4 linked regions of the Homo sapiens genome follow. The protein of the gene in region 3 interacts with the protein of the main gene of each other region in a pairwise test. Each region holds a gene or a part of one and is shown on either strand. Other genes may lie near its edges.

Evidence for each region.
Region 1: the proteins of EIF2S3 (region 3) and LARP4B interact in binary tests that used the Homo sapiens proteins (3 or more experiments, as listed by UniProt).
Region 2: the proteins of EIF2S3 (region 3) and BAHD1 interact in binary tests that used the Homo sapiens proteins (3 or more experiments, as listed by UniProt).
Region 4: the proteins of EIF2S3 (region 3) and ASIC4 interact in binary tests that used the Homo sapiens proteins (3 or more experiments, as listed by UniProt).

Annotation. Positions count from the first base shown.
Region 1 is NC_000010.11:858,685-865,718, forward strand, and holds part of LARP4B (la-related protein 4B), read right to left. Parts: intron 5,587-7,034; coding exon 5,439-5,586; intron 5,200-5,438; coding exon 5,059-5,199; intron 1-5,058. UniProt on the Homo sapiens protein: Stimulates mRNA translation.
Region 2 is NC_000015.10:40,464,949-40,468,766, forward strand, and holds the end of BAHD1 (bromo adjacent homology domain-containing 1 protein), read left to right. Parts: intron 1-386; coding exon 387-487; intron 488-992; coding exon 993-1,182; 3' UTR 1,183-3,288; downstream 3,289-3,818.
Region 3 is NC_000023.11:24,071,947-24,078,980, forward strand, and holds the end of EIF2S3 (eukaryotic translation initiation factor 2 subunit 3), read left to right. Parts: intron 1-1,144; coding exon 1,145-1,317; intron 1,318-4,775; coding exon 4,776-4,839; 3' UTR 4,840-6,864; downstream 6,865-7,034. UniProt on the Homo sapiens protein: Member of the eIF2 complex that functions in the early steps of protein synthesis by forming a ternary complex with GTP and initiator tRNA.
Region 4 is NC_000002.12:219,510,080-219,517,496, reverse strand, and holds the start of ASIC4 (acid-sensing ion channel 4), read right to left. Parts: upstream 2,773-7,417; coding exon 2,191-2,772; intron 802-2,190; exon of another isoform or gene 411-801; intron 293-410; exon of another isoform or gene 229-292; intron 1-228. UniProt on the Homo sapiens protein: Does not exhibit measurable stand-alone pH-gated sodium channel activity but may form pH-gated heterotrimeric sodium channels. Its activity could also depend on alternative gating mechanisms.

The sequences.
Region 1 (7,034 bases), on a different chromosome or scaffold from region 3:
AAAGACATTAACAAAAACCTGATTCAAAAATAGGCAAAGGATTTGAATAGACATTTATCCAAAGAAGACAAATGGCCAATAAGAACAAAAAGGGTGCTTGGCATCACTAACCATTAGGGAAATGCAAGCCAAAACTACAAAGATATACCCACTAGAATGACTACTATCAAAAAAATCAGAAAATAGGCTGGGCGCAGTGGCTCATGCCTGTAATCACAGCACTTTGGCAGGCCGAGGCAGACAGATCACCTGAGGTCAGGAGTTCGAACCCAGCCTGGACAACATGGTTGAACCCTGTCTCTACAAAAAATACAAAAGTTAGCTGGGTGTGGTGGCTCACGCCTGTAATCCCAGCACTTTGGGAGGCTGAGATGGGCAGAGGTCAGGAGTTTGAGACCAGACTGGCCAACATGGTGAAACCCCGTATCTACTAAAAATACAAAATTTAGCTGGGCGTGGTGGCTCACACCTGTAATCTAGGCTACTTGGGAGGCTGAGGCAGGAGAATTGCTTGAACCCGGGAGGTGGACGTTGTAGTGAGCTGAGATTGCTCCAGTGCACTCCAGCCTGGGCAACAGAATTATTCCATTTCAAAAAAAAAAAAAAATCAGAAAATAACAAGTATTGGCAAGGATTTAATAAAACTGGAACCCTTGTACACTGATGGTGGGAATGTAAAATACTATGGCCTGTATGGAAAACTGTATGGTGATTCCACCAAAAAAAGTTAAACATAAGAATTACCATATGATCCAGAAATTCTACTTCTGGAAGGCAGTTCAGCAGCTTTCTACAGAACTAAACATACTCTGACCTTATGATCCAGCAATCACACTCCTGGGTATTTACCCAAAGGAGTTAAAAACTTCCTTCCGTACAAAAACCTGCACATGAATGCTAACAGCATCTTTATTTGTAATTGCCAAAACCTGGAAACAACCAAGATGTCCTTCAGTAGGTGAATGACTAAGTAATTTGTAGTATGTCCAGACAATGGAATGTTATTCAGTGCTAAAAAGAAATGAGTTATCAAGCCTTGAAGACATGGAGGAAGCTTAAATGTACGTTACTAAATGAAAGAAACCTATCTAAGAAGGCTACATCCTGCAGGATTCCAACCCTATGACATTCTGGAAAAGGTAAAACTATGGAGACAGTGAAAAAACCAATGGATGCTAGGGGTTGGGGGGAGGGAGGGGTGAGTAGGCAGAACACAGATGACTTTTAGGGCAGGGAAACTACTCTCTCTGATGCTACAATGGAGGGTACATGTCATTATACATTTCTCCAAACCCACAGAACGTACAACACCAAGAGTGAGCCCTCATGTAAACTGTAGACTCCAGGTAATAATGATGTGCCAATATAGGATCATCAATTATACAAAGGCACCCTCTGGTGAGGGAGTGTGAATAGTGAAGAAGGCCATGCATGTGTGGGGGTGGGGGGGAGGGGAGTATATGGGAGATCTCTATACCTTCCACTAAAACTCGCTGTGAACCTGAAAGTGCTCTAAAAAAAACAGTCTTTTTTTTAAAAAGGATGTTTGATAGCATTAGTCCTTAGGGAAACATAAATTAAAGCCACAGTAAGATTCTACTGTCTCCCTTTTACAGCAGCTAAAATTAAAGACTGACCCTGAGGTCATAAGGGTCATAAGGATGTGGTGCTTTAATCCACCACTGGTTGAGAATAGAAAATGGTACCACCACTTTGGAAAACTGCCTTACCATTTCTTAAAAGGATAAACATGCCTACCAGATGATCCAGCTACTCCATTCCTAGGTATTTTACCCAAGAGAAATGAAAACATATGTTTATATGAAATCTTGCTGACAAATGTTCACTTTTATGAACACTTTTTATTGGCAAAGCCACATTTTGAAAACAATCCCAAAATCCATGAATAGGGGAATAGAAAAACAAACTGTGATCTATCCATATCATGAATACTTCTCAGCAATAAAAATAAATGATTAATTCATGTTACAACATGAATCAGTCTCAAAAATAGTAACCTAAGTCAGACAAAAACAGTACACACTGTCAAATTCTATCACACGTCTGTTGTCCAGCAACTTGTGGGGCTGATGCACATCTCTTGGGCCCAGGAGTTCCATCTTTTTTTTTAAAGAGAAAAAAAATCTACGAAACGCAAACTGACATATAGTGATAGAAAACAGACCACTGGGCCGGGCATGAAGGCTTACACCTGTAATCCCAGCACTTTGGGAGGCCGAGGTGGGCGGGTCATGAGGTCGGGAGATCAAGACCATCCTGGCTAACACGGTGAAACCCCGTCTCTACTAAAAATACAAACAATTAGCCGGGTGTGGTGGTGGGCACCTGTAGTCCCAGCTACTGGGGAGGCTGAGGCAGGAGAATGGCGTGAACCCGGGAGGCGGAGGTTGCAGTGAGCCGAGATCACGCCACTGCATTCCAGCCTGGGTGACACAGCAAGACTCCATCTCAAAAAGAAAAAAACAGACCACCGGTTCCACGGAGAAAGGAGAGGGCACAGGAAGCTCTTCCTGGTGTTTGGGATGTTCGTGATCTTGATTGTGCTGAGGATTTTACAGGTACAGAACAACTTATCAAACTGGGTGGACAAAGCAAAGAGGAATGAAAGAGGCAACACATTAATAATGTATTATTTCCTCAATTGTCTGTAAGCTACAGAAAATCTGGGGTATACCTGAAGTATATGATGTTTATTGTACATCGGTTATGCCTCACTAATGCTTTATAGGAGTGAGAGAGGGAGTAGGTGGAGGCAGATGAAGGAGGAAGACAAAGCAGAAGGTATTCTTTTTCTTCTTTTTGAAAATAGTTTTAAATACCCCTTTTAAAAAGAATCACCTTTTGAAATTAAACTTTCCAGAATATACTTTAACATGTTGTTATTTCACTTTTGATAATGTTCCCTATCTTCTATCTTCAGATAGATTTTAACATGTTATTTCACTTTTGGTAACGTTATCTATCTCCTGTCTTCAGGCAGATTTTCACAAGTTATTTCACTGTTGATAACATTACCCATCTTCCATCCTCAAGACAGATCTTCACATCTGTCTACCTCCTATCTATCTTCCATCTTCTGTATAAATTCTGACCCCAGTTCAAGATTAGGTCATTTCAATTTAGTCTGAAACTTAAATTGTTTATTTTGAACCATTTTACTTCCTACCATTAGGATTCTCACTCCCTCAATGTATAATGCCTTTTTATCTTTTGTAAAAATCTGTTTTAATGATGAGCATTCCTTTCCTTTGCCATCTTAAATTCAATGGACTCTAACATGACTCCAGTTTATCCCAATGTTCTGCCATTCCCAAGTCACTAACCAGTTACTGGTGAATTAACAAGGGGGATGTAATCAAATTACATTGCTGAATACTGGCCTTCCTCAGATTTAGAAAACTGCTCATGTAGACGGGAAATTCACTTTATGCAAATTCAAGATGGCAAATTTATATTTACAAGAAACAAGCATGGCTTAATTTTTGTACCTTTATAAATACTTGATTCATTTTACCAAACAATTATTTAAAGCAATAAGCTCCACTGAAGTTAAAAAAAAAAAAAAAAAAAAAAAAACAACCGTCACAGAACATCTACACATTTTCCCTCTTAAGTGACAGTTTCTGACTTTGACAGTCTTAAGCCAATGAAGTCATTCTGCATGGCTGTGCCTTACAGCATCGAGGTCTGGCCTCTCCAGCCCTGCCCAGTGCATTCCCTGGTCACTGGGATAACGAAAAGCCCATGGCAAGTGGGGTGGGGGAGGGGACAGGGACTGGTTAAGAACAATTGTGGTAATAAAAATGAAAACATGAGAGGCCGAGGCGGGCAGATCACAAGGTCAGGAGATCGAGACCATCCTGGCTAACATGGTGAAACCCCATCTTTACTAAAAATACAAAAAATTAGCCGGGCGTGGTGGCAGACGCCTGTAGTCCCAGCTACTCAGGAGGCTGAGGTAGGAGAATGGCATGAACTCAGTAGGCGGAGCTTGCAGTGAGCCGATGTCTCACCACTGCACTCCAGGCTGGGTGACAGTGAGACTCCGTCTCAAAAAAAAAAAATGAAAACATGAAAAAGTTCCTGCATTTCCAGTAACGTGTGGTACACTCCATAACTGGGCCTGAACATCTCCTTTCCCACCTACTCTCTTCCTTTCCGTTTTTTAGCCACTACTACATACTAAGGTACTTACAACCCTACATGAGAACAACAGAGATTCTATCCAGATGGTCTTACATTTGCTTTCCTCCAAGCCATTCTTTCACACTCCTGCAAAATTTACCTTCCCCAAACAACTTATTTTCTTCATGTCACTCATTTCCTCATCAACAGGAAAGAAGTTCAAATGTGAATGGCTTCTAAGACTTGCAAATGGGGCCTCAATTGCCCCTACCTACAATACCACAGCATTCCCTCTCTATCCCCCTCCCTTTACCCAAACTGTCTTACTCTCAAATCCAACATTAACGTTCCACCTCTGCACTTTTACTGACACTTCGCACTACTAAATAGGTTTCATTTTTTTTTTTTTTTGAGATGGAGTCTCGCTCTGTCGCCCAGGCTGGAGTGCAGTGGCACGATCTCGGCTCACTGCAAGCTCCGCCTCCAGGTTCACGCCATTCTCCTGCCTCAGCCTCCCAAATAGCTGGGACTACAGGCGCCCGCCACCACGCCCAGCTGATTTTTTTTGTATTTTTTTTTTAGTAGAGACGGGGTTTTACCGTGTTAGCCAGGATGGTCTTGATCTCCTGACCTCGTGATCTGCCCGCCTCGGCCTCCCGAAGTGCTGGGATGACAGGCGTGAGCCCCCGCGCCCGGCCCAGGTTTCATCTTTTGAGACCTTACATTCCTCCATGGCACCTCCCTAACCAGGGCCTCTCATCTTCTCTGCATCCACATAAGGGTGAGTTTAAAGTAGAATTAAAAGCAGGCAAAGAAAGACCCATTGTGTAGAGAATGTTAATACTCTAAATAAAAAAAATAAATAAAGCAGCCCATATTCCCTGGGAAAATGCACCCATAAGATATGTTTACCTGTCTCGCTATTTTCAGGCAGAGAGTCATATTCTGAGGGACCCAGAGCGAGAGCGTTCATGTCTGCTGGGTCCGACTCCTGCGGGTCTGGCAATGCGGCATTCTCATGGCCCTGGTCACCATCACCATTGGCATCCGATCCTACAATTAGGAGTTTACCCCAAAAAGGCAGGGTTAGAAGCATAACTTTCTCTTAAAACAAAGCTTACACTTGCAGTGACTCAACTTCTTTAGACTGTAAAAGACCTCTGGGCTCTCAAGCACTGCCACATACCATGACACAGTTATGAATGAACAACATCTTAAAGACAGATTAAAATGGCAACAAAAGCACAGGCCTGAAAGCAGGGGGCTGCACACCACGGCCATGCTCAACTTACCCTGCGGGCCACGGTCTGCGTGGTGGCCAGCCACCTCCTCCCATGCAGCACTCACACCGTCAGCAGCACTGCTTGCTTCCAGATGTAACACAGGAGCCCCCCACACTTCTGCATTAGGGTTCAGCTCTGAAACCTTAGTTGCTGGTACCTAGGAAGAAATGTAAGATAGACATTTGTATCCAAATGTCAACCAAATACAATTTTACTCATTAATGCAGAGTTAAGAGACATCAGATATAGGCTCCAAAGGCTCAGCCTATGTATTTATACACACCTTTGGAATGAAATCAGGTTCAAAATTAAAAAAAAAAAAAAAGCAGTCAGAATTCCATTAAATTCCCCCCAAGTTTTAAGTTCCTCCTCCCAAGACCAAGGCTTGCAGAGATGGGGAAGGACACGCCTGCCACCAAAAGATTCAGTGTTTCACAAACTATACCTGAGGAATAGCTGGTGACTTCCTAGACTCCTAATAAAATCACAATTCAGGGTTTTACAAACTTGAATACAAGGCAGATGAATAAAATTCTAATTAGAAAGCTTAAACAAGTCAGCAGGGCGCGGCGGCTCACACCTGTAATCCCAGCACTTTGGGAGGCCAAGGCGGGCGGATCACCTGAGGCCAGGAGTTCATGACCAGCTTGGCCAACATGGAGAAACCTTGTCTCTACTAAAAATACAAAATTAGCCGGGCGTGGTGGCGCATGCCTGTAATCCCAGCTACTCGAGAGGCTGAGGCAGGAGAATCACTTGAACCCAGGAGGCGGGGGTTGCAGTAAGCTGAGATCGCACCACTGCACCCAACCTGGGGGACAGAGCAGAACTCCATCTCTAAAACAAAAGAAAGAAAGAAAGCTTCAAAAAGTCACATAAACAAAAGGTGTAGAAGATGAAAATTGCTCCTAAGAATGAAGGTGTTCTAACAGGTCTGTCAGGGATACTACAGGATAAGAAAGCTCAGGCATCCTTTGAGGAAGAAGATAAAATATCTCATATTTTTCACAGAACTACCTGTTCCCATTCCCAATAGAGCTTCAGTATCACCTTGAAAGAAAATCCACAGGTGACCATGAAGCTGCTAGTCCAGTGTTCTGGACAACGGACTCTCAGATCACTGGGGCTGAGGCCAAAGCTGCCATGGACAGCTGTGGAACATGGGCTAAACCTCACCTGGAAGACAGCACAACAACATGATGCCTGGCACATACCAAGCTCATCGGCCATCATGACAGTCACGCATGCTCAGTTAGTCCCACAGGGCAGTCCTCTACTCAAAACCCTCCCGCATCAGCTTGGCTCATTTGGAGTAAAAGACGAAGTTCCCACTGCAGCCACAGCGCCCTCCTGTGCTCACTGCTCCCTGGCCTTGTCCATTTCCAGGCACACTGACCTCCTTGCTGTCTCTGGGCACACTGGCACTTTTGCTCTTCCCGTCCGTCTGTCCAGAACATCCTGCCCAGAGACTGGGGACTGGTGGTCCTTCCTGACACAGCGAATAAACCCACAAAAGTCCCCCACCATGTGGATACTCCCTACTCCCCTGATTTTTCTGATACAAGCCTTTCTTATGCTTACACAAGCACTCCCCAAAGCCTAAAG
Region 2 (3,818 bases), on a different chromosome or scaffold from region 3:
CTGTGTGCTAAAAGAGGTGACTGCCATCTGTGTGTGCCCTGGGCTCACCTTTTATTTCACTTTCCCTTGCAGGGACTTTCCATCTAACTGGAAAGATGAAGAACATTTCCCCTCTCCTACGCTAGGCAGGGCTGGGGTTTGGGAGGTCAGTGACAATCAGGGGCTAGAGCAGATACCTGGCTATTCTGGAGAAGGGGGGGACCTAGAAGGGACTCAGGAGGAATGCCTGGAGGCAGTAGGTGAGGCATACTTAGGCTGAATTTCCAGGGAAGCTTGCTGGAGTCATCTCAGGTCAGCAGGCCCAGCAGAGGGGTTAATGTCTGCCTTGCTCTGGGAATGAGGTGCTTTCCAGCCCTGGTAACAACCTCCACCTGTCTCCCTTTGAGCCCTTGCAGAATGAAGTGTTTGCATCGCGACATCAGGACCAGAACAGTGTGGCCTGCATTGAGGAGAAGTGCTATGTGCTGACTTTTGCCGAGTACTGCAGGTAGGTGGTTCCCTGCACCCTCTGGCTGGCCTCTTCCCTCAGGCTCCCCAGGCATATTTGGGGCTGCTTGGAATTCCCCGAGAGGATCTCATTCTGCTCTCTACCTGATCTTACTCACTGAGCCTAATCTCCCAGAACTTACTTCCCTATTGCTTGCCTCTACCATCTGATATTTTTTGGAAGAAAGAAGAAAAATTGTGTTGCCACACTGAGGTAGAATGGTTGGAGCAGAGTTGGGGGGTAACATTACTGCTCTTGGAAAAAATTTAGGCGAATTGGCAGGCAAATGGAGAGAGGCCCTGGCAAGTGTGGTTCTCCAGTGACAGAGAAGATAGCCTGGTGGTTGGCAGAGCAGACATCATCCCTGGGATGGGTGGAGACAGTACCACCCCTTGGGGAGCTAGGATAGCCTAGCTCTCTGGGTCGGGTAGGGTAGGGTAGGGAAGGAATTGGTCTTCCTGCAAAAGTGGCTGGAGTAAAGACAGTGAATGGTATCTCTCTACAGGTTCTGTGCCATGGCCAAGCGCCGAGGTGAAGGCCTCCCCAGCCGAAAGACAGCACTGGTTCCCCCCTCTGCAGACTATTCCACCCCACCCCACCGCACAGTGCCAGAGGACACGGACCCTGAGCTGGTGTTCCTTTGCCGCCATGTCTATGACTTCCGCCACGGGCGCATCCTTAAGAACCCCCAGTAGCCTCCTCATGCCCATGCTGGGGCTACCCATGGGCAAGTGGGGCTCGGGGTAGGGGGCACTGCTTGAAGCACAGCACTTGGTTAGGGGGCCACAGAGGCCTAAGTTTGCTGGCCTGTGGTTTTCTTGGGGGGGAGGGCAGGGGCCCCTGTGGGTTCTGGGCTCCAGGGGAGGGAGCTGGGGAGGCCAGGGTATAAGAAAAGCATCAGAACTCTCAGCTTGGCCCAAGGTACCTTCTGTGGTTCCCCTGGGTGGAGATTTCCGAAAAGTAGTCTTCTCTGAGGCTGGGCCAAGCCTGAGGGAAATGGGGCCCTAGGAGGGTGGGGGCGGGAAGGAGGGGCAAGGTCTTTCAGGAACCAGACCCAACAGGCCCTTCTGTAGCCTCCCCCTTGCCCTCAAAGGGGGAGTGGGGGCCAGCTTTACCTCACCCACTGTGACCCGCCGCTTCCCCTTCAGCCTGGGACCAGGCTTTCCTAGATCCCAGCACAGCTCTGAGCTTGTTCCTTTGAGGCATAGAGAGCCAGAGTCTGGCTTCCAGAGCATTGACTTCCTCTTCCTAGACTTGAGGCCTTTTCTCTGGCTTTCCTCCTTTGCCCTGCAGTAGCAACTGGTGCTGGGACAAGTTGACCCACCTCTCACAGTCATGGGTGTGGCCCACTTGTGGGAGTCTCCTGTCCACCTCCCAGAGACGGCCACCCAGCGGGTCTGGCTTCCCAGAAAGTTAACTGATGATTGTGGGGTTTGTCATATCTGGGAGGGAAGATGGGTGCTGGGAGAGGGTTGGGGGCAGGGGGCAAGGAAAATTGCTACCTGATTTGTTGAAGATTTTTCCTCTTGCCTTACACATGGAGGTTCCAGGAAACCTCTTGCAGAACTTCACACGTGATTCTTCAAGCCACACCCACCTGAAATCAAACCAAAGGAGTGCTGTGGCTCCCCTTGCCCTGCCACCCTTTCCCTAGTCTTTTGTAGATTGCACTAATTTACATCCTAGCAAGAATCAACACTGTATCAGTCCACGGACCTGCTGAGCTGCAGCCACTTGCTCTAGGAGCTAAGGACTTGCATTTTCAGTTTGTTCCTGTTGCCCAGAGGCCCTGTTCTCACCTCATGCTGCTCCCCAGAGTAGACTAACAGGCTCAGTCCCCTGTTGTCCTTGTGGAGACTAGGCCTTGGCCCTGGCCCTGAGACTCTGTGAGGGGGCTGGAGCAGCCTGGTTATTTCCTATCTGTACCAAAGAGGAGTATGGTGGGAGAGGGAGTGGAGTGCAGTGTGGCTTGGGCCTGGTGCTGGGAACCTGCTAGCTGAGCACTTCCACAAGGGCATACCCCTGGGGGCAGGGGCTGGGGCTGAGAACTGCAGCCCTGGGTCTTCCCTTAGGGAGGAAGGGCAGATGAACCCAGCAGGCTTAGGAGGTGGCACTGGGTGAGGACAGCTGGGCAGGGGCTGCAGAGGGAGGTGGAAATGAACCCTGAGGGCTCCCCCAACTTGCCATGCCCTGTCCCTTAGTAGATGAGTTGCTCCTGATTGGTCATTGGGTTTGGGTGAGGCCTGGAGGCTTCAGAGGTGAATTTATGCTTGGGAAGCCTGATCCCAAACCTGAAGGGAAGGGACTTGGATCTCCTTATATTGAATAAGCTGTTTGGAGGAAGGTGTCTGTCTGGGAGGATGGGGCAGTAAATGAGGTTGGCAGAGTGGCAGTGGGGGCTCTGCAGAGCCAGCCTTGGAGCCTGCTCATTCTGGGCCCTTGCTGCCAAGGAGCCCAGCCTCACCTAGCAGGAAAGGAGATGAAGGCCCTCCTCCCAGGAGGTAGGGTCTTGGCTGCCCCGAACTTAAATGCTTTTGAAATCTCTTAGATGTGGAAATATTTTTTCGAACCTGAAAATGCAGCTGGTAGAATTTCAATGGAAGCATAATCCATGTAAAATATATTTTAGTTGATATTTTGTAAAATGCACTTTTTGTGTGTGTTGATCCTGGTTTCCCAGATCTGTATTTCAGTGTTTACAAGGGAGGAAGGACCTTTCCTCACCTCCCTTTTGACAGAGATTAGAAGTACTTCTTTAAGAAAAAAATAAATTTGAGAAATTGTATTGATTTAGAAAAGGATCGTTTCCTGTGTGTCCTGTCATCTTTTGGTGTGTGGGTGTGGAGAGACCCACTATTCTTATTTCAGAGGTCCCTCTTAACCCCTGTGGCATGGATGCTCACCAAGGCCAATGAGCAAAGAGGGCAGGGAAGCAGAGGGAAAAGAGAGTGAGGGAAGGAGACAGAGGGACTGGGAACTTGGAGTTGACTTCTTGATTTCATGGTGGCCACAGCTGCCTGCTTAGGTCTGTGTGAAATACTTCAGTTGCCAGCCCTCACCTGACCAGTGACCTGGAAATTGGTCCCCAAGTAGGTACATGGCAAAGATACCTTCTTATCACTGGCCTCATGCAGTGGCTCCTGCCTGTAATCCCAGTGCTTTGGGAGGCAGAGGCAGGAGGGTTACTTGAGCCTAGGAGTTTAAGACCAGCCTAGGCAACATAGACCATGTCTCTCGAAAAATTTAAAAATTAGCCCGGCATGTCAGTGCATGCCTATAGTCTCAGTCAGGAGGCTAAGGTAGGAGGATTGCTTGATCCCAAGAGCACGAG
Region 3 (7,034 bases):
CTCACGGCAACCTCCACCTCCTGGGTTCAAGCAATTCTCTTGCCTCGGTTTCCCAAGTATATGGGACTACAGGCACGCACCAGCACGCCCAGCTAATTTTTGTATATTTTAGTAGAGATGGGGTTTCACTATATGTTAGCCAGGCTGGACTTGACCTCCTGACCTCAAGTGATCCGCCCGCCTTGGCCTCCCAAAGTGCTGAGATTACAGGCATGAGCCACTGCGTCCGGCCAAAATTGAGAACTATATGGCAGTTAGTTTAAGAAAGAAACTTAATAAACAGGGAAAAGTATTAGCCATTTATGACAAAGACATGATATTCCTAAAATCCATATTTTTGTTTTGTTGTTTATTTTGAGACAGAGTCTTGCTCTGTTGCCCAGGCTGGAGTGCAGTGGTGCGATCTCGACTCACAGCAGCCTCGATCTCCCAGCTCAAGCCATCCTCCCACCTTAACCTCCTGAGTTGCTGGGACTACAGGTGTGGGTCACCACGCCTGGCTAATTTTGTATTTTTTGTAGAGACGGAGTTTTGCCGCATTACCCAGGCTGATCTCCAACTCCTGGGCTTGAGCAATCTGCCCACCCCAGCCTCCGAAAATGCTGGGATTAACAGGTGTGATCCACTGCGCCCAGCTTCATGATTTTTAAAAAATGTCCCAGATTAGGTTGGCAGAGATGGGAAATTGCTGACACCTAGTGTTGGCAAAGATTGAGGAAAATAAGCTATCATGCTTTTTTTTCCCCCCACTCAGGTGATCTGCCTTCCTCGGCCTCCCAATGTGCTGGGATTACAGGCGTGTGCCACTGCGCCTGGCCCATATTAACTCTTATATAGCCATAGTCCTTCATGCTCCCCTCTTTGGGAAATTTTGTACCTCATTTGTACTAGGTAACTGCTTCAGAATTTTAAGAGGTACTCTGGTACGGTTACTACCCTATTTTTTAAAGGTAGATCTTGTGTAAATTCAGTGGGTGCCAAATAAACTATACTATATATAGTTCAAATTCCTTTACAATGAAATTTCTATAGAATTTTTTTTATGATTGACATATTTCCCAATAGTATTTGGTAAATTCTTACTTACATTTGGAAAGCATTTTCTTGATTTTGGGGTTTATTTTTCCCTAATTTATTTTTCTAGGTTCAAAAGCTGTCTAAGAATGAAGTGCTCATGGTGAACATAGGATCCCTGTCAACAGGAGGGAGAGTTAGTGCTGTCAAGGCCGATTTGGGTAAAATTGTTTTGACCAATCCAGTGTGCACAGAGGTAGGAGAAAAAATTGCCCTTAGCCGAAGAGTTGAAAAACACTGGCGGTAAGTTTGTTAGTCTTTGCCACTGTCTAATTAAAAAAAGACACAGTCTTGTACAGAAAAAAAAGCACACAATCTTCCTTGAGGACAACAGTTACTGTGGCTTTCAGTCTCAACTATTTATTTGGATGACTTTGAAAACTATACTTCGGCCGGGTGCGGTGGCTCACGCCTGTAATCCCAGCACTTTGGGAGGCCTAGGCGGGTGGATCATGAGGTCAGGAGATCAAGACCATCCTGGCTAACATGGTGAAACCCCGTCTCTACTAAAAAATACAAAAAATTAGCCGGGCGTGGTGGCGGGCGCCTGTAGTCCCAGCTACTCGGGAGGCTGAGGCAGGAGAATGGCGTGAACCTGGGAGTCGGAGCTTGCAGTGAGCCGAGATGGCGCCACTGCACTCCAGCCTGGGCGACAGAGCGAGACTCCGTCTCAGAAAAAACTACAACCTTGACTATAGTCCCATATTTTAGTCCAAATACTGTGATTGGCTTCTCTTCCTGTTAGACACAACCTATGCAAAACCAAATGAATTTGGGTTCGGTATTTCTATCGTCATTGGCTTTGGAAATCATTTCACACTTAATAGAAAAATTGTAAGAGTTTTACAGAAAACTCCTCTATAGCTTTTTCCTAGATTGACAAACACACATACAGATTTATTTACATATATAAGTTTTTTTCTGAACCATTTGAGTGTAGGCTATATATGTTATGCTTCTTGATCTCTTAATACTTCAGTGTATATTTCCCATCAAAAAAGGATATTCTTATGTAACCACTTAGAAATTTAACATTGGCAAAATACTGAAATCTACAGTGCATGTTTCAGTTTTATTACTTGTCCCAATAATGTACTTTATGTTCCTCCTGTTTAGAATCTTGAATTGCATTTAATTTCATGTCTCTTTGATCTTTAATCTGGAGCTTTTTCAGCCTTTGTCTTAATTGACATTAACAGTTCTGAAGAATACAAACTAGTTACTTTATAGAATATTCCTCAATTTGGGTTTTTCTTATCATTCGGAAGCCTAACATTAGATTCAGTTATATATTCTTAACTTAAATACACCGTGAAGTCTCCTTTTCAGGAATCACAGCTAGAGGCACATGATATCTGACTGCTCCTCTTTGTTAAGGTTAGTTTTGACTATGTAGTCAAGATGTTGTCCAGCTTCTCTGCTGTGTAGTTACTCTCTACCCTTGCAACTAATAAGCAATCTGTAGGGAGATCTTTCTAGCCAGTACAAATAGCCTGCTGATCATTGAATCCCACACCCCTGGATGTAGCATCCACTGATGATTCTTGCCTGAATCGAACTTGACTATAATGATTACAAAATCATAGCACCTCTACGGGTTGCAGTATCCTCCCTCAACTCTACCACCCCACATTTATCATTTGGCATTCTTTCTTTGCCATTATTTATTTCCCTATCTAGTTATAATATGGACTCATGGAGTCCTATTTTATTCAACATGTTATGATCCATCACTGTCTTCCTTTATTTTGATGTGCATTGTTCGACGTTTGGCCAGTGGAGGTCCTTCAGGCTGGCTCTTGTGTCCTTTTGACATGTACTCATCATTTTTTTTTCTTCTTCTTTTTTTTTTTTTTTTTTTTTGAGATGGAGTCTTGCTTTGTCGCCGGGGTAGAATGCAGTGGCATGATCTCAGCTCACTGCAACCTCTGCCTCCCAGGTTCAAGCAATTCTCCTGCCTCAGCCTCCCGAGTAGCTGGGACTACAGGCACACGCCACCACACCCGGCTAATTTTTGTATTTTCAGTAGAGACGGGGTTTCACCACGTTGGCCAGCCTGGTCTTTAACCCCCGACCTCAGGTGATCCGCCCTCCTTGGCCTCCCAAAGTGCTGGGATTACAGGCATGAGCCACCACGCCTGACCTCTTTCTTCTTTTTTTTGGAACATTTCCTTATTTTCTGGCACAAAATCTTCCAGACTCATCTTGTACCTTCTCTGTTCCAGTTTTAGAACTGGCCATTTCTCTTATAAATGAAAAGCTGAGTGTTCAGGTGTGCTCATGGCTCTTAGGGTGCTGTTGCTTCTAGGTCTTTTGAGAGCATAGAGCCAGGAAGCATACACACATTTTTGGCTCCTGACTTTTTGCTCTTTCCCAGGTTATTGAGTTTGCCCCTTGCTTTCCATTCCTCGTCACCTCATCACAGTCCATACCACCATCACTTTACACTTCACAGTTAGTGCGAAAGACTCCTAGTTTGCCTCTTAACTTGGTCAAAATTAGTCTTCTTAAAACATTTTCATCATGCTGTGTTTAATAATTTCTAGAGTCTTCTCACTACTTTTTGATATTTGGGACTTTTCTAGAAACCTGCTTCAACCCATTTAAGCTTTCCTTCTGCATTGTCTTATATAAACCCTCTAAATTAGACTGTTTTGTGCCCTAACTGTCCCCATAATTATTCACATCACCCCTACCCACTATCTACTTCCTTAATTATTTATTTTATATTTTTTAGAGGCAGGGTCTCTCTGTTGACCAGGCTGGAGTTTAGTGGCATGATCATAGCTCACTGCAGCCTCAGTGTCTAAGTAGCTAGGACTATTGGCTCACACCACCGTGATCAGCTAATTTTTTTGTTTTTTGTAGACACTTGGTCTCACTGTGTTGCCCAGCATGATCTCAAACTCCTGGCCTCAAGCCATCCTCCCACCTCAGCCTCTCAAAGTGTTGGGATTACAGACATGAGCCACCCCGCCCAGCCCTGTTTCCTTTATTAAGGCTTCCATGCTACTGTGCCCACGATGGTCTCATCACTTGTCCAGGAGATTTATCTGAATTATTGCCCTGTAATTTAGAAAGTTAAATTTTTGTTGTCTCTTAAGTAAATAATTATTTGTGGTGACTTATGCCCTTTTGATTTTACTGTCTTTTGTGATTATATTTTTTTGCTATTACAGACACACGACTTCCAGTGTATTTTGAAATAGATTTAAGCAATAAACTTTCAGTCCAGGCACGGTGGCTCATGCCTGTAAGCCCAGCACTTTGTGAGGCCGAGGTGGGCGGATCACTTGAGGCCAGGAGTTCGCAACCAGCCTGGCCGACATAGTGAAACCCCATCTCTACTAAAAATACCAAAAAATCAGCCGGGCATGGTGGCGCATGCCTGTAGTCCCAGCTACTCGGGAGGCTGAGGCATGAGAATTGTTTGAACCCAGGAGCCAGAGGTTGCAGTGAGCCGAGATCGTACCACCGCACTCCAGACTGGGTGACAGAGTGAGACTGTCTCAGAAAAAACACACAAAAGCAAGAATAAAAAAGAATCTAAGAATATAGTGTGGGCTTTCTTTATGGAGGAGCAGGCTTTGGGAACAAATTTGAATTCAGAAGATAAGCAGGTAAAATTTATCACAAGATTGTGTGGTAATGAGAGTGAAGTGGATGTAAGATTTATGATTTCTTTTATTTTCATTTTGCAGTTTAATTGGTTGGGGTCAGATAAGAAGAGGAGTGACAATCAAGCCAACAGTAGATGATGACTGAAGAATACCAGTTAAATAATACATTCGGATGGATTTGGAAGTTGGAATTCCTCTTAACAACCAAGGGGTTTATTTTCAAAGCAATATTGGGGAATTGATTTCACAGTTCGTTACCTTAGTAGGTAACGGTAAGGTTATTCTCTTTTTTTTTTTTTTTTTTTTTGGTTATGAAAACTTAGGGACTAAAATTAATATAAAAATTGGCATAATGTTGGATTGAATCTACATTTTGGCAGAAGTTAAACATTCCCACATAATGTCAAAATTATACATCATGCAGTTCTGTTTTTTTGTTTGTTTTATTTTGTTTTGTTTTTGAGTCTGGCTCTGTCACCCAGGCTGGAGTGCAGTGGCGTGATCTGCAACCTCTGCCCCCCGGGTTCAAGCGATTCTCCTGCCTCAGCCTCCCGAGTAGCTGAGATTACAGGTGCGCGCCACCACACTTGGCTAATTTTTGTATTATTAGTAGAGACGGGGTTTCAGCATGTTGGCTAGGCCGGTCTCTCCTGACCTCAGGGTGATCAGCCCACCTCGGCCTCACAAAGTGCTGGGATTACAGGCGTGAGCCACCTTGCCCAGCCCACATCATACAGTTTGAAATGAAACTTTGCCACAACCAGCCTTTGCTGTAGCACACACATATATCACTGAACCTGTTTGAAATAAAGTTTTTTTTCTTTTTCATGATTCGTCTTTGAGTACCTCCAGGCTGAAAGACTGTTGTACCAGTAAAAACTTAAAGGCACAAATTCTCCTTGAAGACCTTCTCCCTTTTATGTGGCCCCATATTTTATGTTGCTTTATCTTTGAAATTTTGCATGAAAAGGAAATGAATGGATTCGAATGAAATTGTCCTTTAGAGCATGATTACTTGTTCCCATGGACAAATATTTTTCTCCCCTTGCTCTTCCTGGCCTGAAACACGGGAAACCAGAGTCAAAAGTTATCTCCCTCTCCCTGTGATGCCTTGAGATTTTTTTCTGCGTTGTTTAATGCCTGAAATCCAAGTCTTCCTCCATGGGAAAATACTGTTATACCAAATAATTCTAGATGAGTAACAAAGATCTTTTTAGGCCTTCATTTTATGTTTTTTCTTAACTGTTATATTATGATTGTGACATAGATTATACTACTACTAATTTTTGGATGTTTCAAAAGGTCAAGAAGTAAAAGATGTTAGAAAGCAATGAGTGAGTCCTTTTGATTTTTAACTTATTCCCCATGTCCCTATACTTCGTGTGCTTTTCCTTTTTTTTTTTGAGACGGAGGCTCACTCCGTCACCTAGGCTAGAGTACAGTGGCACGATCTTGGCTCGCTGCAACCTCTGCCTCCCTGATTCAAGTGATTCTCGTGCTTCAGCCTCCCATGTAGCTGATATTACAGGCACTTGCCACCATACCCGGCTAATTTTTGTATTTTTAGTAGAGATGGGGTTTCACCATGTTGCCCAGGCTGGTCTTGAACTCCTAACCTCAGGTGATCCGCCCGCCTCTGCCTTCCAAAGTGCTGGGATTACAGGCGTGAGCCACTCTGCCCGGCTTATTTTTCTTTATGTTTTTGCTTCGTAAGAGGTTCTGTTGAGCAGTGATTTGCAACTCTTGCTGACGTTGCTGGGGAAGCTTTAAAAAAAAAAAAGATGCCCCACAGAGATTCTGATTTTAATTGTTCTGATTTAATTGGCTTGGAGTAGAATTCAGGCATTGATATCTTTAAAAACTCCCCAGTGTTGAGAAACAAATTTAGAGAGTTGAGAAGTAGGTATATTAAATTACAGAATCTTACTGAGTTTTGGTAGACTGATAATACAATTTGCTTTGCTTTTCTTAAATTTGCATTGAGATGGGATTTGAAGCATATTGTGCTCTTGTGAATGTTGAAGTTGCATTGTAGAAGTTTAGAAGCTCTGGCTATGGGTTGCCTAAATTGATGTTTTGAGGAAGCATATTAATGTTATAAACTTCGCTGACTTTGAAGGTTGTGTTGTAGCATGAGGAACACAAATAAAACAATTCTAAATCAAACTAATTTTATATCTAACATGTCCCCATGTGTTTTGTAGGTACCTTCTACCAGAAATTTTGGAATAAGACTTAAAATATAGACATTGTAATTAATCTCATGTAAGATTTGAAACCAGAATTCTATTATAATTAATTTCAGACATCCACATGAATTAGCAAATTTGTAAAGCACTG
Region 4 (7,417 bases), on a different chromosome or scaffold from region 3:
CAGAAGAGTAGGAGGCTGGGCTGGAGACAGGGGAAATGGAAATCCCAAAGGGGAATTCCTGTCCCCCAATGCTAGCTATGCCCTCTACCCCCACTGTCCTGCACCAGGGCCAGAACCTCAGCCCACGGACTTCTACCATCCTCCTTTCTCCAGCCCCAGGGTACCAGAGGGCCTGTGGGAAATCCACCCACACTCCTCCAGGCCATCCCCAGGATTCCGGGGACTCACCAGCCTTGATCAGAGGATCCCCGTTCCTGTATCCTCCAGGCACCGCCTCCTAGCCTGGAGACCAAGCAGAACCCTCTGCCTCCCTCCCCTTACTTCCTCACCCCCTCCAGCTCTTCCTCTCCTTTCCTCTCACTGAGGTCTCATCACCCTTCCCCTTTCCTGCCCACCCCCAACTCCCGCTCGGGGACACAAAGATCCCATTGATTTCTGTCCCAACAGCACCTGCTAAGACTGAGCTCTGCCCAGCTCCCAATACGGAGTGGTGAGGATTGAGGACAGCAGAGCCCTATGGATCCCAAAGGCCACACTCACCCTCCATATCCCACCTCCTCCTCGGGGACTCTACCAACCCTTGCTTTGGGGAGCAGTGCTTTTCCCTAGGAAAGGGGGTGTACAGCCGGACAACAGGCCAATGCCCCCGACTCTTCTCCCTGCACAATGCTCCTGCTCCTGTCCCTCTATTTCTACCTAACTCCCCTGCCCAATGGCGGGAGGCCCCAGACACTGCAGGCATGGTGGGGGCCAGGAACCTCGTTGGCTGGAGCATGTTTCCTGGTGATCCTGAGGCAGCGGGTGAGTGAGAACCTGGCGGGGGTCCCTATCACTGGGGCTGGCTGCTGGAGGCTGGGCTGGAGTGGGCACCATGTTGACGCCAAACATTTGCATATGCACTGGGCAGTGGCAACGAGGATGAAACATACACGCATGCACACACAATGCTGGGAGCAAACTGTGGACTAGGGACAAGCATCTCGAGCGCCATGAATACTAGATACCCTGTGACTATGGGTGAATGGAGCCCTGACAGACAGGCAGTGTACAAGACACGCCCACCCCCTCACATACCTGACTGTGGGAGGCGTGCATGGCAGAGCAGCCCAAGCTCACACCCCTCTCCCGGAGAGGGTGCTTGTGTTTGTGCTCACACGTAGGTGACAGATGGCGCCAGCAGTCTCCAAATGGGGAGCAGCGGTTGGGATAGATGGGGGTGGGGGTGTCATGAGAAGGGATGGCATCCACAGTGGGACCCTGTCCTTGGCAGCTAAGCGAGAGCTGGGAGCTAGACATGGAGATGAGTAGCTCTCTGGGTGTGGGTGTGCAGGTGTGCATGTGAGTGTAGTGACAGGGACAGTGAGTGAGAGAGGGAGTGTGCAGGAAACTGTGTCCCCCAGCAGTGCGTGTGCGTGTGTGCGTGTGCATGTGTGCATGCACCCGTGCTGGGGCAGCAGTGAGGGTGAGTTATGCACATAAGAGTGAACCAGTGATTCCCAGTGTAAGAGCCAGAGCTGGGCATGGGAGCCGCTAGAACAGGAGACAGAGGGGGACTGGACCCCAGGAGGGCTGGAGGGCAGAATGAAAGAGGGATGTGTGAGGGAGTCTGTGAGGCAGGCATGTGAGAGACACACAGAGATCCAGAAGAGACACTGGCACCCAGTGTCCTGAAGACCGGGTCTCTCCAGCCTGCCCACCAGGCCAGCTCCCCAGGAGGCCACCCGGGGTCCTTCCCTAGATGGAGCCCCCCAAACCTCCCCTCCCTATCTCCTTCGTTTGGTGGGAAGAATCCAGTAGCCTCAGAAGAAAAAGGGAGCAAGAGAAAAGTGAGAGTCAGTTGGTCTGGCCTTGGGATGGTGCGTGCGTTCCCTGCAAGCCAGCCAGCTCCAGGACACCTGGGCCCATGCCTAGGAACCCCCACCCCAACTCCCAGACCTGGGCACTGCAGCAGCAGCAAAACCAAGAAGAGGAGCAGCAGGCGCCCCAGGGTAAGCCCCTATGAGCGGCCACTGCTCCATGGCTGGGAAGCCAGAGGGAGACGCCAGGCTTGGGGAAACACGAGGCCAGCCTCTGGTGGTGGAATGAAGGGAAGCCCTGTTGAGGATGCCCCTGTACACCACTGCCACCACTCCTCCCCACTCCCCAGCCTCCGGCCATCCAAGGCCAGGCAGCCCAGCTGGCAGAACTCACCACAGAGAAGTTGCTGGCGGAGCAGTGATGCCCACTGAAGTTGCAGCTCTTAAGCATGTCGGCGAGCTGGTGGCCAGTGCGGTTGAGGATGTCTACCATGTCAGGCTCTGGGTAGCGCAGGCCAGCCGCACGGTGCCCATCCCGGTCTTTGGGGGGCAGCCCTGTCAGATTGGCCAGGTGGAAGATGTCGGCATCGCTGAGTGCCGAATGCCGGAAGCGGTTGATATTGCAGAGGGTGACAGCCGGGAAGCCCGCCACTGGGGCTGGGGCAGCGGGGTCCATTGCCACCAGGTGAGGCCGGGTCAGGTAGCCCCGGGCCAGGCCAGCCGCCTGGTACAGGAAGGCAGCCAGCGAGGTGAGTAGGGCCAGTGCCCACAGGGTTCTGCGCAGTCCGTGGGGGCCTGGGCCACAGGCCCGGCCCAGTCCATGCAGGGTGCTGGTGCTGGCAAAGGTGGCCAGGTCTCGGGGGGCTGCTCCAGGGGCAACAGCCCCGAGGAGGCTCTGCTCATCCCCTGCCTCCTTCTCCTTGGGTTTCGCATCCTCCTCAGCAAATTTGATTTTGCACACAATCTCGATCGGCATCTGTCCCCGGCTGCTGGGACTGGCCAGAGCCTCCCTGCCCTGTCCCTCCCTAGCCAGCAGCCCTGGTGCCCTCCCGAGTGGCAGTGGTGGCAGCGGCTGCTCTTCTAAACTCAGGGCAAGCGGGAAGAGGACAGGGACAGGGTGGGGGCCCGAGGTGGGGGAGTCACTCCCACTCCCAGCAGCTCCGCAGCCCTGGTGCTGCCTCTGCCGCTGCTGCCTCTGCTGCCGCTTGTCTCTCTCCTCGATCGTCTCCTTGTGGCTTCCCTTATCAGCACCAGCACAGCTGTCAGCCCCTGCGTGTGTCCCTGCGAGCGAGCGAGTGAGCGAGGGAGCGAGCGCTGCTCCGCCACGCCGCGCAGCCCCAGCCGCTCCGCTCAGCATGTGCTCCGGAGCCCTCCCCACGCTTAATAATTCAGGACATGTCAACAGCGTTTCACCGGCAGCACGGGCGTCAGGAGCCAGGCCAGGGGAGGGGGCAGTCCCCAGCCCAGGACAGAGATCCCAAGACTGGGGCTATCCCCCAAACTCCTGCTGCACCCTAGCCGCTCACTGGGTCCCCAGATCTCCCCACTTCCTGGCCACCCAGGGAAGGGTGCCGTGCCCAGGGTCCTCAGCTCATTCTTTGCCACTTTCCTGGCCCACACCCCATGAAGGGTCAGCCAACTCTATCCCCCCACCTCCTGGCCTCTGAGACTCCTGACTCCAGCACCCAGCCACCACCTGATCCCACTACCCGACTCACAGCAGCTTCCAGAAACTCCTTGAGAGAGCCACTTGTTTGAATGACGGAGGGAGGGGGGCAGAGGAGGGCAGGCTAGACAGACCAGGGGACAACTGTGACTTCAAGATTCTCAGCTTCCCTGGAGCTTTGCTCCAGACTTCAACACCCACCATGCCCCTGCCCCCTCTGGGAGGCTGGCTGCCCTCACCCTCATTTTGCCCCCAACCCCAATCTCAGTCATTCATATGTCTGGGACAGACAGCACCCTGGCCAGCTTGCATATCTGTGGCCACTTTGCTTCCCCAAATGTTCCCCAAATCCCTTGCCACAACCAGGCTTCGGGGGAGGGCTGTTGGGTAAGCAAGCCAGGGAGCAAAGGGGAGGTGTGCTTCCGGGGTGCTCTATATGTAGGGGGACAGGGCATGCAATGGAGGGAGAGGAAGAGCCCCAGTGGGGGCGTGGAAGGGAGCAGGAAGATGTGCTGGGCGTCAATGGGAGCGAATGCTCTCCTAAAGAAAGGGGTTTGAGGGGTGCCTGGCAGAGTGGGGCAGGAGAGCCCTAAGGGGTCTGCTGTGTTCTCGTGGAGGGGAACAGGCATGTGGGCCATCATCATAGGTGGGGGTGGGAGCCTCAGTTGACTGGCCAGGAGGGGATGCATCCATGCCCCCAGGGTGGGGGTGGCAAGAATCAGTGCTTGTGCTCTGGGGCCCCATCCGACAGCATGTGCCCTCACGGGGGAGGAAGCCCTTGTCCCCGGGAGGAAAGGGGGGCTGATTAATCGGGGCGCTAATGAGCAGCAGGGAGAGGAAGCGTGGACGGGCGGGGGGAGGTGGCTCCATCGATCCAAGCCGCAGAACCAGCAGCTGAGAAAAAAAGTGAGAAAGGAATCGATCTGAGGGAAACGGCAGCTGCTGGGGATTAGAGCCCGAGGTCCACCCGCTGCCCAACGGCCACCCCGCCCCCTGCGTCAGGCCTGGCCCCGCAGCCTCTGCCTGGCCCCAGGGGAGGGGCCTAGGGATGGCTCCCTTAGCAGCTGGAAGCCACTTTGCCCACCCTGGCTGCAAGGCCAGGTCAGGCCCCATCAGGGTCACCCCAGCATGGAGCCTGCCCACACACCCAGCCCTGACCATGCGTGGTGCCCTGCTTAGGTTGTCCCTAGCCTTTAGGCAAAGTGGCTTCCCCAGGGACCCCACAGCTGGGCTTCCCCACAAGCCTCCAATGAGTCTGGGTCAGCTGGTTCCCCAAGCTGGGAAGATAAGACCCCTGGGGCAGGGTGATGCATCTGGCTGGGACATAGTGTCCCAGAAGGGAAAGTGGGATTGGCATTGGACAAAGCCGCTGAGTTAGCACTGAAAGTGGCCAAGTGACCACAGACAGCCCCCTCTCTCTGTCCCATGCCCAGGCAGCCGCCTCCTATGCTCTCCCCTCCCTGGTAGACTTCCAAACCTTTCCAGAACTCCCCCCACTGTTCCTCCCCATCCTTCTCTCTCTTCTCCTTTCTCCTAATATTGATTTTTCTTTACTGTTTTTTTTAAAAGGTGATTTAATTGCTTTTTAAGGTTACTTTAGTCTGGGGCTTTGCCAAGAAAGCGGGAAACTGCCCCCCAAACTCTCCGCAGCACTCGTTGCTACCCTGGAGTGCATACATATCTCTAAATTCACCCACCATCTATTGAGATCTTGGGGTCACACTTCCCCGACAACATACTGGCCTCCATCATGAGACAAATCACATCCTCTTTCCTCCTGAGGGTAGGCAGGATGCCTTCAACCTCTATAAGGAAAGAAATCGGGTGGTAACTGGGTATAAGGGGCATGCGGGGGGTGCTGTGAGGGGAGCTCCAGGCTGCCAGGAAGTGGAGCAGCAATTAGCTGCATGCACACCCCCACCACTGCCCCACAGCCAGCTGTCTCCAATTGTCCCCAAGCCCCCAGCCTCCAGTCTCCCAGATCTCCAGGAATCTGGTGATGTTCTGAGGGAGTGCCCCCATACTTCCAGCTCATCTCTTGACCTTTCCCTCCGCTTCTCACCAGGCCCTCTGGCCCCCTCCCTGTCTCTCTATACCCCCTTTGCCTCTGGCCCCGTCCCCTCTCTCCTCCCTCTCCCCGCTTCCCTGCCTGCCTCCCTCTCTGCCCGGCTGCAGTTGGGTGATAATCTCCCTCATTTAGCCTCCCGGCTGCTTCCCCGGCTCATTGCCCAGCTGGTCCCTGGGGCCCGGCCCAGCTTCTTCCCCACCCCCACCCCGGCCCTGCGCCCAAGCTCCCCCACCCCTCCCTGCTTCCCCCACCCACTCCCGGGGGACCAGCTGCCCCTTGCAGTGAGGCATCAGGGACAAGTGTGGCTGGCCAGGCCCTGAGCTGGGTGTGAGCAAAGGGGGCAGGGCTGTTAGGGACCCTGGACTGGGAGTGCCGGGGAGCTGGGTGTTGCGGGGTCAGAATGTGAAGCCTCATCCCAGGTTCCTTTGCTCTCTGGTTGTCCCCATTCCTCAGATTTATTCCCAGTCCAATTCACCTGCCTCCGCCCCCCAGGGGATGAGCTTCCTGACAGTGAGAATGAGTGGTAGATGGACTGGGACGAGGTTTGGTAACAGGGCAGAATGTGGGGGGGGGGCAGTGCATGCAGTCGGGGGGAGAGACAGGGAGAGCAGTGGGTTTCTGGCTCAAGGTTCCTGGGAGGAGGCATGGAGATTTTGTTTGGGCAAAGTGCCCCAAAGGCAGACCCAGAGACCTCCCAGGATCCAACCTGGGGGGTTCCAAGGGTGCTTTCTCAAAGCACAGGAACCCCCAAGCTGATGCCCAGATTCCTTGCCTGGCTGGCCCCATTCAAAAATGCTGTGACCCCCTGAACTCCTAGACAGCATTCTCCAAAAGATGCCCAGCCTCCCTCCCCCTGCACCCAGAGGACACCCTCCCCAGCCCAGACACCTGGCCCTGGTGCGGACCAAGTGATGAGCCAGTGTGGGACAGATGTGGGCGGTAAGGGACAAGGATGGGGGGGCTGGGGCTGGGCTGGTCCAGGCCTGGCTGGTGAGCACACAGCGGTGACAAACGGGCTGTGCAGGGGCCGAGGGGCGGGGGGCGGACGGCGGCTGATTTATCTGGGTTATTTATGCCGCGGACGAGGCAGGAGAAGCGGTTAATGAGAGTCCCAGAGAAGGGGGGTGGGGAGTCCCGAACGTGATCTGAGGCGACTGAAGAGGGTTAGCGTCCCACCGCCAGGCCCTGCCCCCACTGTCCGCCAGTACTCCTTGCACCCCCACCCCATCTTTCTAGGGCCAACCCAGCCCAGCACCTTCTCCCGAGTTTCATACCAACACTTCCCATCTCCTTTCGGGTACTCCCAAGCCAAGGCAACGGGTCCCTGGGACTATAAGGACACCAGGTCCAAGATGGGATGGGGGCATCAGGAGGAAGTGGGGAAGACACCAGGAAAGGGAGGGCAGGAAGATGAAAAATCCTGGCTGGCCAGAAACTAACAAAGTCTGTGGGGCCTGCGGGGGAGGGCTGGGATGGACGCAGCCATCGTGGGAGTGGGTGTGCAGCCGACAACCTCGGAGCTGAGGCTGCAGAGGGCAAAGGGCATGGGGTACAGAGGCGGTGTCAGCCAGTAGCCACAGCGGGGGCCTGAGTGGCAGAGACAGGCTGGCCGGGAGGGGGTGCTGGTCAGAGAGCGGAGAGAGCTGAGGAAGGAGGGGGAGAGGGCTTTGCAGCAGCGAAAGCTGCTGGGAGCAGATAAGGCGGCACAGCAGCAGGAGGGATTAGAGCTCCGAGGGGCATGTGGGGAGCGGTGTGGGAATTGGGGGGTGGGGCAGGGAGGAGAAGGTTGAGGGCAAGACACTAGGGCCAAGGAGATAAGTGGGAAAAGTGAGGGCTGTGAAGACGGCAGGGTTTCATCAGGGGCCAAGAGGTGGTCATCGACGGGGA